Linked DNA regions of Homo sapiens: regions 1 and 2 are each linked to region 3. Evidence: fine-mapped expression QTL. A gene starts in region 3. Each other region holds a variant in brackets. All regions are shown on one strand. Distances are between the middles of the regions. Region 1 has its middle 13 kb from the start of HDHD5-AS1. Region 2 overlaps ADA2 (adenosine deaminase 2). Region 3 holds the start of TMEM121B (transmembrane protein 121B).

What was found.
Region 1: its variant is fine-mapped to the expression of TMEM121B in whole blood (INTERVAL, PIP 0.93).
Region 2: its variant is fine-mapped to the expression of TMEM121B in whole blood (INTERVAL, PIP above 0.99).

What each region holds. Positions count from the first base shown.
Region 1 is chr22:17,170,398-17,174,515 of GRCh38, forward strand. No RefSeq gene overlaps it. Among named protein-coding and RNA genes, the nearest start is that of HDHD5-AS1, 13 kb to the left of the region's middle. RefSeq lists an enhancer at 768-1,269 and a silencer at 1,120-1,549. The variant C/T (reference allele first, on the strand shown) is at 1,751.
Region 2 is chr22:17,186,831-17,190,948 of GRCh38, forward strand. It overlaps ADA2 (adenosine deaminase 2), which reads right to left. Exons shown (of 10, transcript NM_001282225.2): 6 at 3,112-3,202; 7 at 1,509-1,617. Among named protein-coding and RNA genes, the nearest start is that of HDHD5-AS1, 30 kb to the left of the region's middle. RefSeq lists enhancers at 1,115-1,616, 1,617-2,116, 3,005-3,505. The variant T/C (reference allele first, on the strand shown) is at 1,777.
Region 3 is chr22:17,118,995-17,123,112 of GRCh38, forward strand. It overlaps TMEM121B (transmembrane protein 121B), which reads right to left and starts at 2,366. Exons shown (of 1, transcript NM_031890.4): 1 at 1-2,366. The coding sequence starts at 2,133. The coding sequence ends at 397. It overlaps LINC01664 (long intergenic non-protein coding RNA 1664), which reads left to right and starts at 2,601. Exons shown (of 4, transcript NR_103793.1): 1 at 2,601-3,045. RefSeq lists a silencer at 2,078-2,207 and an enhancer at 2,793-3,324.

The sequences.
Region 1 (4,118 bases), 51 kb after region 3:
CTCAAAAAAATAAAAAATAAAAATAAAAAAATTAGGGAGGGCGTGGTGGCTCACGCCTGTAATCCCAGCACTTTGGGAGGCCGAGGTGGGCAGATCATGAGGTCAGGAGTTCAAGACCAGCCTAGTCAACATGGTGAAACCCCGTCCCTACTAAAAATACAAAAATTAGCCAGGTGTGGTGGCGCACACCTGTAATCCCAGCTACTCGGGGGGCTGAGGCAGGATAATTGCTTGAACCCGGGAGGCAGGGGTTGCAGTGAGCCGAGATCGCACCATTGCACTCCATCTGTGGGCGACAGAGCAAGACTCCATCTCGAAAAAAATAATAATACAAAATTAGCCGGGCATGGTGGTGTGCGCCTGTGGTCCAGATGAGGCAGGAGAATAGCCTGAACCCAGGAGGTGGAGGCTGCAGTGAGTTGAGATTGTGCCACTGCACTCCAGTCTGGGGAACAGAGTGAGACCCTGTCTCAAAAAAAAAAAAAAAGAGTTCAGAACAGTGTGGATACTGTGCTGCCTTTTATATGAGAGCAGGAAAAAATATATATATTTGCTTTTGTTTATTTTGCATAAAGAAACACAAGAAACTAAGCCTGGTGGGAGAATGGGTGGGATGGGAAAGAGGACAGTGGAAAACAGAGGTGGATAGAAGCCTTTCGAATGTGTTCCTTTTCATACTTTTTGAATTTTTGAAATGTGATTGTATATAGATTCATTTTAATTTTAAATGTAATTAAAATTTAAAATTCATTACGGCACTACTCTCTCATCCTGTACTATGGGCTCTACCCTTTTTTGTTTGTTTGTTTTTGTTTTGTTTTGAAGAGACAGAGTCTCGCTGTTTTCCCCAGGCTGGTCTAGAACTCCTGGGCTCTAGCGCCCCGCCTGGGCCTCCCAGAATGCGGGACTACAGGCGCCGCCACCACCCGGCGTCTACTCTAAATGCATAGAGGCCAGGATGACCCAAGGTCACCAGCGGCCGATGCTGCCTGGCAGGGGCTTGAGGCCGGGAGGGGACCCTGCGGACAGGCGAGACCATGTGTGATCTGTGGGAAGCAACTAAACCGGCGTATTCGCGGCAGGGGAGCTCTGTGCCGTCCCGCGGCCCCACCCCGCTCTGCCATGGGAAGCCGTAGCTTGGCGCTGCCCACAGTGACGCGAGGGACTCCGAGGGCACCCGGGCCGGGGTGGACACGGGAGTGGGCCCGGGCGCGGCCGGCAGGGGGCAGCAGCGCCGCGCCGCCCGCGCAGTTCCACAGGTGCGCCGAGCCTGGGGCCATCGCCTCCCTCCGGCCGCCGTCCCCAGCGAATCGCCGCCTGCGTTCTGCCGTTTCCCCGCCACCGCAGCCACCCGGGGCCCGGGGGGCCGCAGCCATCCGCAAGCCGCGGGGCGGCGGGACCGGGCGGGCCGCTAGGGACGCCGGACGAAGGGAGCCCGCGGGCGGGGTCTGGGCGCCTACATCCTTGCTCCCAGGGAGGAAGGGACAGGAAACTGAAGCTGTTTCCGGGGCTGACCCCGGCCAGAGAGAGCAGGGCTCGGGAGAGTCGGCGCGTCCCGGAGGCGGCGCCCCCTGGAGGCCGGTGTGCTTTGGCTCTGCAGCGGGGGAGATTAGGGGTGGAGGCCGACCGATCCCACTCAGCCAGGACTGGCAGGCGCCGGGAGCTCACTGGGAGGCAAGTGCCGACCCCCGAAACCCACTCCAGACAAGCGAAGAAAACAGCTCTGTGTCCCAGGACGAGCACATACCTA[C/T]TGTCACCCACTGTGCGACCTGGAAGAGTTACTGACCCTCTCTGGGCCTTAATCAGTCATCAGAAACACAAACGCGTAGATAAGATGGTCTTTAGGCCTCTCCCAGCTCTGCTATTCTGTGAATCTAAGAAACTCTAGTCCCTCCACCAGTCCCCACCCCGGGCTGGCTTCGCTTCAGGGAGGCCTGGCTGAGCTGGGGCCCTCATCCAAGGTCTTTGCACGGTTCCTCAGCAAAGGTGTTTTGGAAGGCTGGGTCCCACCCCTTCCCGGCGGAGGAAGAGGCTATTGGCTAAAAAGCCTGGACAAATTCAAAACCAGCAGCTCGGCCCCGGTTTTTTCGGAGCACAGCCAAACCCAAATCACACCTCTGCACCTACCTAGCTCCAGAGATCTAGACAGCATTTACAGCCCCCAAATGTTATTTTTACACCCTTTCCAGGCAGGGAAGGACAGAGGAGGGTAAGCTATTTTTAGGATGACTGCTATTTAAAGTAACATACTGGCCTGGCAAGGTGGCTCTGGCCTGTAATCCCAGTGCCTTGGGAGATACAGGCAGGAGAATCACGTGAGGCCATGAGTTCAATACTATCCTGGGCAACAAAAGGAGACCCCCATCTCTATTAAACAGCCGGGCGTGGTGGTGCGCGTCTGTCGTCCCAACTACTGGAGAGGCAGGCTGAGGCGGGAGGGTCCCTTGAGCCCAGGAGTTCAAGATTATAGTGAGCTATGATCACAGCACTGCCCTCCAGGCTGGGCAGTGAGACCCTGTCTCAAAACAATAAATTAAGTAACCTAGACTATGTATGTGAAAATAATATTTCCAACCCTAGCATGCTGACTTCATCTGAGCTTACAGATGCATTTTCATACAGTCCTCCCCAAGGGATCAGTTCCTGTGAGAGCCAAGGATGGCACCACTCATTGAAATCCTGACCATGGGAAGGCGTCATTTGGGATTCCGGAATGGGTGGCTGAAGCAGTTTACAGAATCGCGTTCTGGTGAGCTTTAAGAATGGAACAGGCGCCGGGTGCGGTGGCTCACGGCTGTAATCCCAGCACTTTGGGAGGCCGAGGCAGCCAGATCACTTGAGGTCAGGAGGTCGAGATCAGCCTGGCCAACATGGTGAAGCCCCGACTTTACTAAAAATACAAAAATTAGCCAGGTGTGATGGCGCGTGCCTGTAATCCCAGCTACTAGGGAGGCTGAGGCAGGAGAATCACTTGAACTGGGATGGTGGAGGTTGCAGTGAGCCGAGATCATGCTACTACACTCCAGCCTGGGCGACAGAGTGAGACTCAGTCTCAAAAAAAAAGAAAATAAAAAGAAACAGGGACATCTTCCTGAGGAAGTCTCGGGCTGCTCTTCCTGAAGGTGAGGCTGGTTGCATAGTCTTTCAAGGTCCCTCACAAGCTGAGGCTCCTGTAAGTTTTCTCTTTTCAGCTAGTCTTTTCAAACGAACACACCTCCACCTCGCTTTCCTCCTTCCAAATGAAGAGCTGATCTAGAGCAGGCGCAGATCCAGATTTTGGGGCAGTCCTGAGGTTTATACATATTTGAAGGGTCTTCTTAAGGAAAAAAGAATAAAATCTGACTAACACACATTTCCTCTGAAATGGCAGCTTCGGGAGCACTGCTAAGGTAGCCGAGCCCTCCATTCCAGTGGCCACTTCCAGTCTAACAATTCCACCGTTTTCTCTTCTTTTTTCAACTCTTTCCATTCCAGTGGCCACTTCCAGTCTAACAATTCCATCGTTTTCTCTTCTTTTTTCAACTCTTTCCATTCCAGTGGCCACTTCCAGTCTAACAATTCCATCGTTTTCTCTTCTTTTTTCAACTCTTTCCCTCTTCCTGCCCATTTTTTTTATTTGTTTTGTTTTGGATGCTTGTTTGTTTGTTTTTGAGACAGAGTCTCGCCCAGGCTGGAGTGCAGTGGCATGATCTTGGCTCACTGCAACCTCCGCCTCCTGTGTTTAAGCGATTCTCCTGCCTCAGCCTCTTGAGTAGCTGGGATTACAGGTGCCCACCACCATGTCTGGCTAATTTTTTTTATTTTTAGTAGGGACGGGGTTTCACCATGTTGGCCAGGCTGGTTTCGAACTCTTGACCTCAAGTGATCCACCCGCCTCAGCCTCTCAAAGTGCTAGGATTGCAGGGATGAGCTACCATGCCTGGCCATAATATTCCCATTTTAATATGCATAAATTGTATTTCTGTGTCTACACACACACACACACACACACACACACACTCCAGTAACAATGAGCACATCTAGTGCCTAGATCAGGGCTACTAAATATTATTCTCTACTGAAAGGAACAGAGCTCCCTGGAGAAATGGCTGAGCTCAGGCATGACACAGGGAAAGTAC
Region 2 (4,118 bases), 68 kb after region 3:
TGCACTCCAGCCTGGGTGACAGAGTGAGACTCCATCTCAAAAAACAAAAAAATTGACCAGGTGCAGTGGCTCACACCTGTAATCCCAGCACTTTGGGAGGCCTAGACGGGTGGATCACAAGGTCAGGCGATCGAGACCATCCTGGCTAACACAGTGAAACCTCGTCTCTACTAAAAATACAAAAAATTAGCCGGGCGTGGTGGCGGGCACCTGTAGTCCCAGCTACTTGGGAGGCTGAGGCAGGAGAATGGCATGAACCCAGGAAGCCGAGCTTGCAAGTGAGCCGAGATCATACCACTGCACTCCAGCCTGGGCCACAGAGCGAGACTCCATCTCAAAAAAAAAAAAAAAAAATTTGTTTTCCTTTTTGTGTAGAATGGAATCTTACTATGTTGCCCAGACTGGTCTCAAACTCCTGGGCTCAAGTGATCCTCCTGCCTCTGCCTCCCTAAGTGCTAGAATTACAGATGTGAGCCACTGTACCTGGCTAAAACACTTTTTTTTTTGAGACAGGGTCTAGCTCTGTCACCCAGGCTGGAGTTCAGTGAGCCTGGGCTCAGGCAATCCTCCCACCTCAGCCTCTAAGTAGGTGGGACCACAGGTGTGTACCATCATGCCTGGCTAATTTTTGTATTTTTTTGTAGAGACAAAGTTTTGCCATGTTGCCCTGGCTGGCCTCAAACTCCTGGGTTTAAAGAGATCCACCCACATCAGCCTCCAAAGTGCTAGGATTACAGGCATGAGCCACTGTGCCTGTGCCCAGCCTAAAACGAATTTTTATAGCCAAAGTAGGATGATGTGAGTTTGCAGGATTATGCCCCTACCACGAAAAATTAAAAAAAAAAAAAAAAAGAAGAAGAAGAAGGATTCAAATTCAGACTCCACTGCGCACCAGCTCTTTAACCCTGGACCACTGTGTTTGGAGCCTTGGGCTCTTCATCTATCAAATGGAGATTAAAAACTGGGGAAACAATCAGAAATCAATTAGAAAAGGCCAGGCGCAGTGGCTCACCCTTGTAATTCCAGCACTTTGGGAGGCCGAGGAGGGCAGATCATGAGGTCAGGAGATCAAGACCATCCTGGCTAACACGGTGAAACCCCGTCTCTACTAAAAATACAAAAAATTAGCCAGGCGTGGTGGCAGGTGCCTGTAGTACCAGCTACTTGGAAGGCTGAGGCAGGAGACTCTCTTGAACCTGGGAAGCCGAGGTTGCAGTGAGCTGGGCGACAGAGGGAGACTCCGTAAAAAAAAGAAAAAAAAAGAAGAAGAAGAAAAGAAAACAGGAAGGAAAGAAGAAAGAGAAACTAGAAATAATACATGTAAAGTGGCTGATTCTATTATCCTTGTTATTCCTTCTCCATGGGGCTGTTGTCAGGATTAAGTGAGATAGAGCACAGGAAAGGGCTCTGGAAACGCCTGTAGGCTCTAACCCTGAGGCATGGGCCTGTGGCCAGGAGCTCTCCCATTGACCACCTCCGCTGCCTCTGCTCGCATCCCGCAGGCTCACCTGTTTCTCCGGCGTGGAAGAAGTAAGGCAGCTTAACGCCATCCTTGGCGGGGATCATCAGAGCTTCCTTGTAGTCATGCAAGGAGTGGCCAGTGTCCTCATGCCCCACCTGCAGGACAGAGAGGGACAGGGAGGTGTCTGCAGGGCGCATGCCTCACTTGCTGATGGCGCGCCCTGGAGCCTGTGCACACCCTTCCTTGTACCCTGCCACCACTGCCGGGACCTTTGTCACACAGCCTTTTAAGAATGACCAGGAGCAGGCCAGGCG[T/C]GGTGGCTCACACCTGTAATCCCAGCACTTTGGGAGGCCGAGGCAGGCAGATCACGAAGTCAGGAGATCGAGACCATCCTGGCTAACACAGTGAAACCCCATCTCTACTAAAAATACAAAAAATTATCCAGGTGTGGTAGCGGGTGCCTGTAGTCCCAGCTACTTGGGAGGCTGAGGCAGGAGAATGGCATGAACCCAGGAGGCAGAACTTGCAGTGAGCTGAGATCACACCAATGCACTACAGCCTGGCCAAGAGCAAAAAATATATATATATATATATTTTGTAAAGACGGGGTCTCACCGATTTGCTCAGGCTGGTCTAGAACTCCTGGACTCAGGTGACCCTCCCACCTTGGCCCCCCAAGGTGCTGGGATTACAGGAGTGAGCCACTGCCCTGGACTAATCTAGATTCTTTTTTTTTTTTTTTTTTGAGATGGAGTCTTGCTCTGTCGCCCAGGCTGGAGTGCAATGGTGCAATCTCAGCTCACTGCAACCTCTGCCTCCTGAGTTCAAGTGATTCTGCCTCAGCCTCCCAAGTAGCTGGGATTACAGGTGCAGGCCACCAAGGCTGGCTAATTTTTGTGTTTTTAGTAGAGATGCGGTTTCTCCATGTTGGCCAGGCTGGTCTTGAACTTCAGACCTCAGGTGATCCACCTGTCTCGCCCTCCCAAAGTGCTGAGGGCATGAGCCACTGCACCCGGCCTAGATTCTTTATGAGATTGCCGAGCTGTCACCTAAGAAATGTCCTGGTTGTGCTTCGATTTGGTGGGGAGGTGTGGGACAATGACAACACCTATGAATGTGTAGCTTCAAAAACTGGTGTGGCCAGGCATGATGGCTGGAGAGGGAGGGACAAATATCACTACCTTGAGGATTTGCAAAGGCCTGGCTCCATCCTGGACTCTGTTTCCAGACATTACCCCCCAGTCCCCACCCCGCGTGCTACAGGGGCTGGTGAGGGTTTTAAGACCCACACCTAGGTGAGCAGTGTGGGATAGAAAAAAGGGCACAGGCAGGGCCATGGGGAATGAGCCCATAACTGTGGTCCAAACTCCCTGAATGCCATCCTTATTCTGGAACTTTCCTTGTTAGCTTGTTAGAACTGGCTGTCTGCTCTCCCTTCTCCAGTGACAGCCGTCCCCTGTAGGCCTCTGAAGAGGGTCAGCGCTGAGCTCTGAGCAGCCCTGCTGTGTCAGCAGCCTGAGCCTGCCCTGGGATGTCAGGGTACCAACAGGCACATTGCGCTCCCTTCCCAGGGAGTTGCCGCTCCACCCAGACAGGCATCCTCGCATGCCCCCTTAACAGGCAGCCCTTCTGTTCACAGCATGGGTTACCAGGTCAAACCCTGCCACCACCGTGGGGAACTTGATTCGGAGCCCCATGGCCATTCGGATGGATTCTGCGATGACAGCCACATCTTTGGATCTGTGAGACAGACAGAGAAGCCAGGAGACAGTGCCCAGCACCGACAGAGCACAAACCCCAGAGCACACCCTCCGTGCAGGGCTGGGCCAGCCCCAAGTGTGCAGGTCCCGTTTCCCAAACCTGAGGCACCCCTGCCCTCCTGACCCCACCCTGACCAGGCCATTGTGATCCCTGAGAGATATGTAGCCCAAATCCATTCTTATCAAAGACCCTTGCTGGCTCTGGGGGCACCTGTAGTCTCTGAAAAGTAGATGGGGTCAGAGGACCCACGGGAACAGTTTTATTTGTCTGCGTTTAGAGGAGGCCAGGTGGCCTTGTTCCCAGCTCTCCCTGCATCTCTGTCGGGGGTGTAGACATGGATGCAGCTCAGGGGCAGCTCTCTGTCCACTGCACACCTGCAAAGGGCCACAGGTCACCCAAGTCCCTGATGGGTCGGCTGGACCCAGTAACCATATGGCCTCTTGCTGATTAAGTCAGCAAGATCCTGGGTACTGCAGAACCCTACAGGGGCAAGGCAGGCAGCATGACAACAAAAGCCCCAAAACACAGGGTCTGGCGCAAGCCCACGACAGGCTCAAGGTCTTTGCCCTGCCACTGGCTCTCCTGCTCCAATCCTCGGCTCTGTGGGGATAAAGCCTTCCTGGCCTGCCCCACCCATGGCCTCTCCCCAGAGCCTAGGCAAACCTGGGGGCACTGATGCACTCAGCTCAGCCCTCACACCCTCCTGCCACTGGCCCTGGGAAGGGGCACCTGGCACCAGGGAGCCTCTGAGCAGAACGTGGGCCCATCCTGCAAGCTCCCTCCTAGGGGGACCGGCACAAAGCCAGAGCTTAGCTCCTCCAGGCCCCAGGCCCCATGGAAGGGAAGGGGACTCAGGAAGACTGGGCATGGGAGGAGGCTCCTGGGGAGTCAGTGC
Region 3 (4,118 bases):
GCATGGGACAATGGCCACTAACCACAGCCTAAAAGAGGCTGGCACTTCTAAGCAAGGGAGAAGGTCCAAGGCCCAGCACCCCTCTCCTCCTAATGGATGGGAATTAGAGTGGAGGTGGGCAAAGCAAGAAGCAGAGGTACCAGCCCCTTGGAGGTCAGGATTGGGGTAGGATAGGAGAAGAGAGGAGAGGGTAAGTGCACCTACCTCCCTCACCGTTAACTGCTGGTCTCCCTCCAAGCCGTCCTCACCCCAGGGTGCAGAAGAACACCCTGGCCCTTAGCCCTGAAAAGGGTTACCTCTTCCAAATAGACCCTGATCAAATCTAGGTGACAGAAGGTAGAAGACAAGGGGGTTGGGGACTCTCAACCCAAAAACAAGGACCCGTGCCCTTCACCCTCAATTCTGAGAGGCCACAGCCAGGGTGTTGACATAGCCATGAGCACCCCCCTCGTTCTCCGAGATGCAGTGGCCCAGCTGGGAGCCTCCCTGAGGTGGTGGCGGAGGTGGTGGAGGGGCGGAGGGCGGAGCACCGTAGCCCCCTCTGGCCCGACTCGGGGAGGCCCGATTGCCCCGGTCCCAGCAGCCCTCCAGGGCCTCCAGGCCCCGGCAGCCGAGGAAGAAGAGGTTCTTGAGCATGAAGATGGAGAGGGGCTGCTGGTAGCTGACCACCAGGAGGCAGCGCAGCGCCAGCAAGGGCACGTCCACCAGGCAGCCGCCCAGCAGGCGCAGAAGGCGGCTGCAGCTGCCAGGCCCGGAGGCCTGGCCCCAGGATGCAGCCGCTGCGGCCGCGGCGTTGAGCTCGTAGAGCCAGAGCACCGGCGAGGCGAGGGTGAGGAAGTAGACGGCGATAAGCAGGTAGCGCAGGTGCGCGGGCAGCGGCACGCGGCCCTCCAGCATCAGCTCCACCAGCGTGAAGCTGTCGAGCAGGTCCAAGCACGTGCCCAGGAAGCATCCGGCCGCGCGGTGCCGCTGGGGCTGCAGCAGCAGGGGTCCTGCCGATCCCGGGGGCGCGCCCGCCTCGCTGATGGCCCGCACCAAGCTGTAGAGCAGGGGCACCGACAGCGCCATGGTGAGACGGAAGCCCGTGGTGCCGAAGGGCGCGCGTAGCTCGATGAGGTCTAGGATGGACGTGCCCAGGATCAGCACCACCTTGGGAGTGAAGGCGATGGAGTAGATAAGCCAGGCCAGGTAGGCGAAGGCGAACTCGCCCGCTGCCGCGGCCGCCCCCAGGCCGCCCCCCGCGCCGCCGGCGCCCCCGCGGGCTCCGCGTGCCTTGGCCCCAGCGGTAGCGGCCGAGGGGGCGGGCAGATGCAGGGGCGGCGCGGCGTGGTGGTGGTGCAGGTGGTGGTTGTGCGCGCCGCTGGCTGCGCCGCCCCGACGGCCCCGGCTGTTCTTGGCGAAGAAGATGGCCCAGCCCACCACCACCACCAGGTCAGTGGCGATCCAGGAGCACCAGTACAGGTCGGTGACGGCGATGAGGTACAGGTCCAGCAGGCCGCCCTGCGCCAGCAGCAGCACCACGGACAGCGCCTGGTAGCCCCAGCGGCACCTGGGACTGGGGGCGCAGCCGCGGCGCCGACCTCTGCGGCCGGGGCGGTCTGGGCAGCCGCAGCAGCAGCAACACGGGCAGCAGGAGGCGCCGCTGCCGGTCCCGGTGCCGCCCGCGCCCCCCGCCGAGCGGCTCCCGGGGCCCCCGACGGCCCCGGCCGCGGCGCCCCCGCCGAAGTCCGCGGCTGTCATGCTGCAGGAGGAGGTGGGCGTGGAGGTGGAGGAGGAGGTGGCCGCTGAGGAGGAGAAGGCGACAGGCGCGGGGCCGGCGGGGGCGCCCACCTGAGCCGGCGGCCCCAGGAGCGCGGCGTTGGGCACCAGCGGCTTGCTGACGCTGAGGCTCTCGTCGTCGTCCTCGCGCTCGGCGCCCGTGCTGCTGCTCGGGGAGCCGCCGCCCCCGCCGCGTCTGCCGCCGCCTCCCCCGCGGCTGGTGCTGGTGCTGGTGCTGCTGTCGCCGGAGCCTCTCCGGCCGCGGAAGGAGCCCCCGCGGAGGAAGAGGGGCTGCAGCCGGGCGGCTGCCGGGGGCGGCGGGAAGGAACCGGACGCGGAGGAGACCGAGCGAGGGTGGCCGAGCGCCGGGCGCATTGTCCTCCGAGGGGCTCTGGGGCCGCCCAGCTGTTCCCTCCCCGCCAACCCCGGGCGGGCGAGGCGGGCTAGGCGGCCGAGGGGAGCCGGGGCCCGCCGCCTCCCCAGCAGTGGGGACTCGCACCTGGGCCGGGCGGCGGCGAGATCCGGACTGGAGCCACTGGACTGGGCGAGCCGGGCCGGGCGGCAGGGAGAGGGGGCAGGCGGTGAACCGAGCGGACCGCGGTGAAGACAGGCGAGGCGGGGGCGGGGCGGGGCGGGGCGGGGAGCGAGTCCCGCCGGGAGGGAGGGAGGCTGGCGGCGGGGAAACCAGGACTGGATTCGAGGGGGAGAGGAAGCAGCGAGACCAGAGGAGGAGAAAGCGCGGCGCGCTGGATCAACGGGAAGAGAAGGGGCGGGGGTGCAGTGCGTCACAGTCGGGTCGGGAGCCCTGTGGCCTGGAGGAAGCGGGAGGAGGCGCGGGCAGCCGCCAGGGCGAGGCGACCCGGTGCGGGGGGACTCCCATGGAGCGCGGACTCCTAAGGAAGTCGCTGGGAATCCCACCGGCTGTACCGCAGGGCGTTAGTACCTAGATGGCTTCGGTGCCCCCAAGCGATGGGCTCAAGCTACAGGGCGGGCTTTGCACCTGGCCTTCTCAGCTCTGAGGCAGGCAGTGGGCAGCTTCGCCTCCACCCTCCGTCCAGCGCCCTTCCCATGGGGCCATCCGCCTCTCCCTAAGGCACTAAAAACCAGTGGAGGAGTCAGGCCATGTTGGCAAAAAGGGCTCGGGCAGCAGCCCCAGACCTATAGTCCTAAATATCCATGTACCCAGCCCTGGGGTCGCGAGCCATCTCAGGGACGACCCGATTCCAGCGGATGGAGAAGTTCCCTGAAAACACCTGCCTGGGAGGAGAGACGAGGGAACGAGATTGGGCAAGTGGCATCCGCCCAGCGGGCTTCTCAAAGGTTTTTAAAGCAGAATGGGACGTAATAGGAAGATGTGTCTAGCAGAGAGTAAAATAAAGGGGCATTTAGAGGTGTGGGCACCTGGATGAAAACAAAGGCTCCAAAGGGATGATGGTGAGGGTTACAGCCCACCACAGTAGACAGAGACACCAAGGAAGGAATGCAGTCAGTGGCCCTGCGTAGACAGTCTCAGGAGAGAGCACACCAGCTCACCCCAGGACTCATCCAAGGCTGGGGATGGATGTCGATGCAGCAACTCTGGAAGGCAGAAGGTAGAGTGCTGCCTTTAGGGGTTTAAGGGAGAAGGAAATGACTAGAGCAGTTGGGGCTCAAAAACAATCTGAGGTTCACCAATAATGGAAACATCCCATTCCCAGCCCCATGAAAACAAGGCAGAAAGCTTGCCTGCCCTATTGGCCTCTGCACCCTTGTGGGGCCTGTGGGCTCCCTGATTTCATGACCTTTGAAGCTGCTGCTGCGGGCTCATCTCCCCTAGGTAACAGCTTGCAGCGTGATAACACCATGCAGTGTGAGGGAGCTGTATGCAGTGGAGCCGCAGGGGTTAGTCAGGCCTCGCCCCTAAATCTGCCTCTTAAATAAGAGTCCGTTTCAGCCAAACCTGCCTTTTCCAGTTCCGTGGAGGTCAGTCTGCACAGCCAATCCCTGGTAAATATACAATTTAGAACCTGCACCATCTCCACCTCCCCCACACACACCACTTTTGGAAAGCTGGCATGGTGGTGAGGGCAGGAGCTCTGGGGCCGCCATCCCACCTGTGCCACTTAACACCTTTGTGGTCTTAGCCTGAATATTTCACCTCAGAATGTTGATCTGTAAACAGGACCCCACCCCAGCCGGGCGCGGTGGCTCACGCCTGTAATCCCAGCACTTTGGGAGGCCGAGGCGGGCGGATCACCTGAGGTCGGGAGTTTGAGACCAGCCTGACCAACATGGAGAAACCCCATCTCCACTAAAAGTACAAAACTAGCCGGGCATGGTGATAATCCCAGCAATTTGGGAGGCAGAGGCGGGCAGATCAC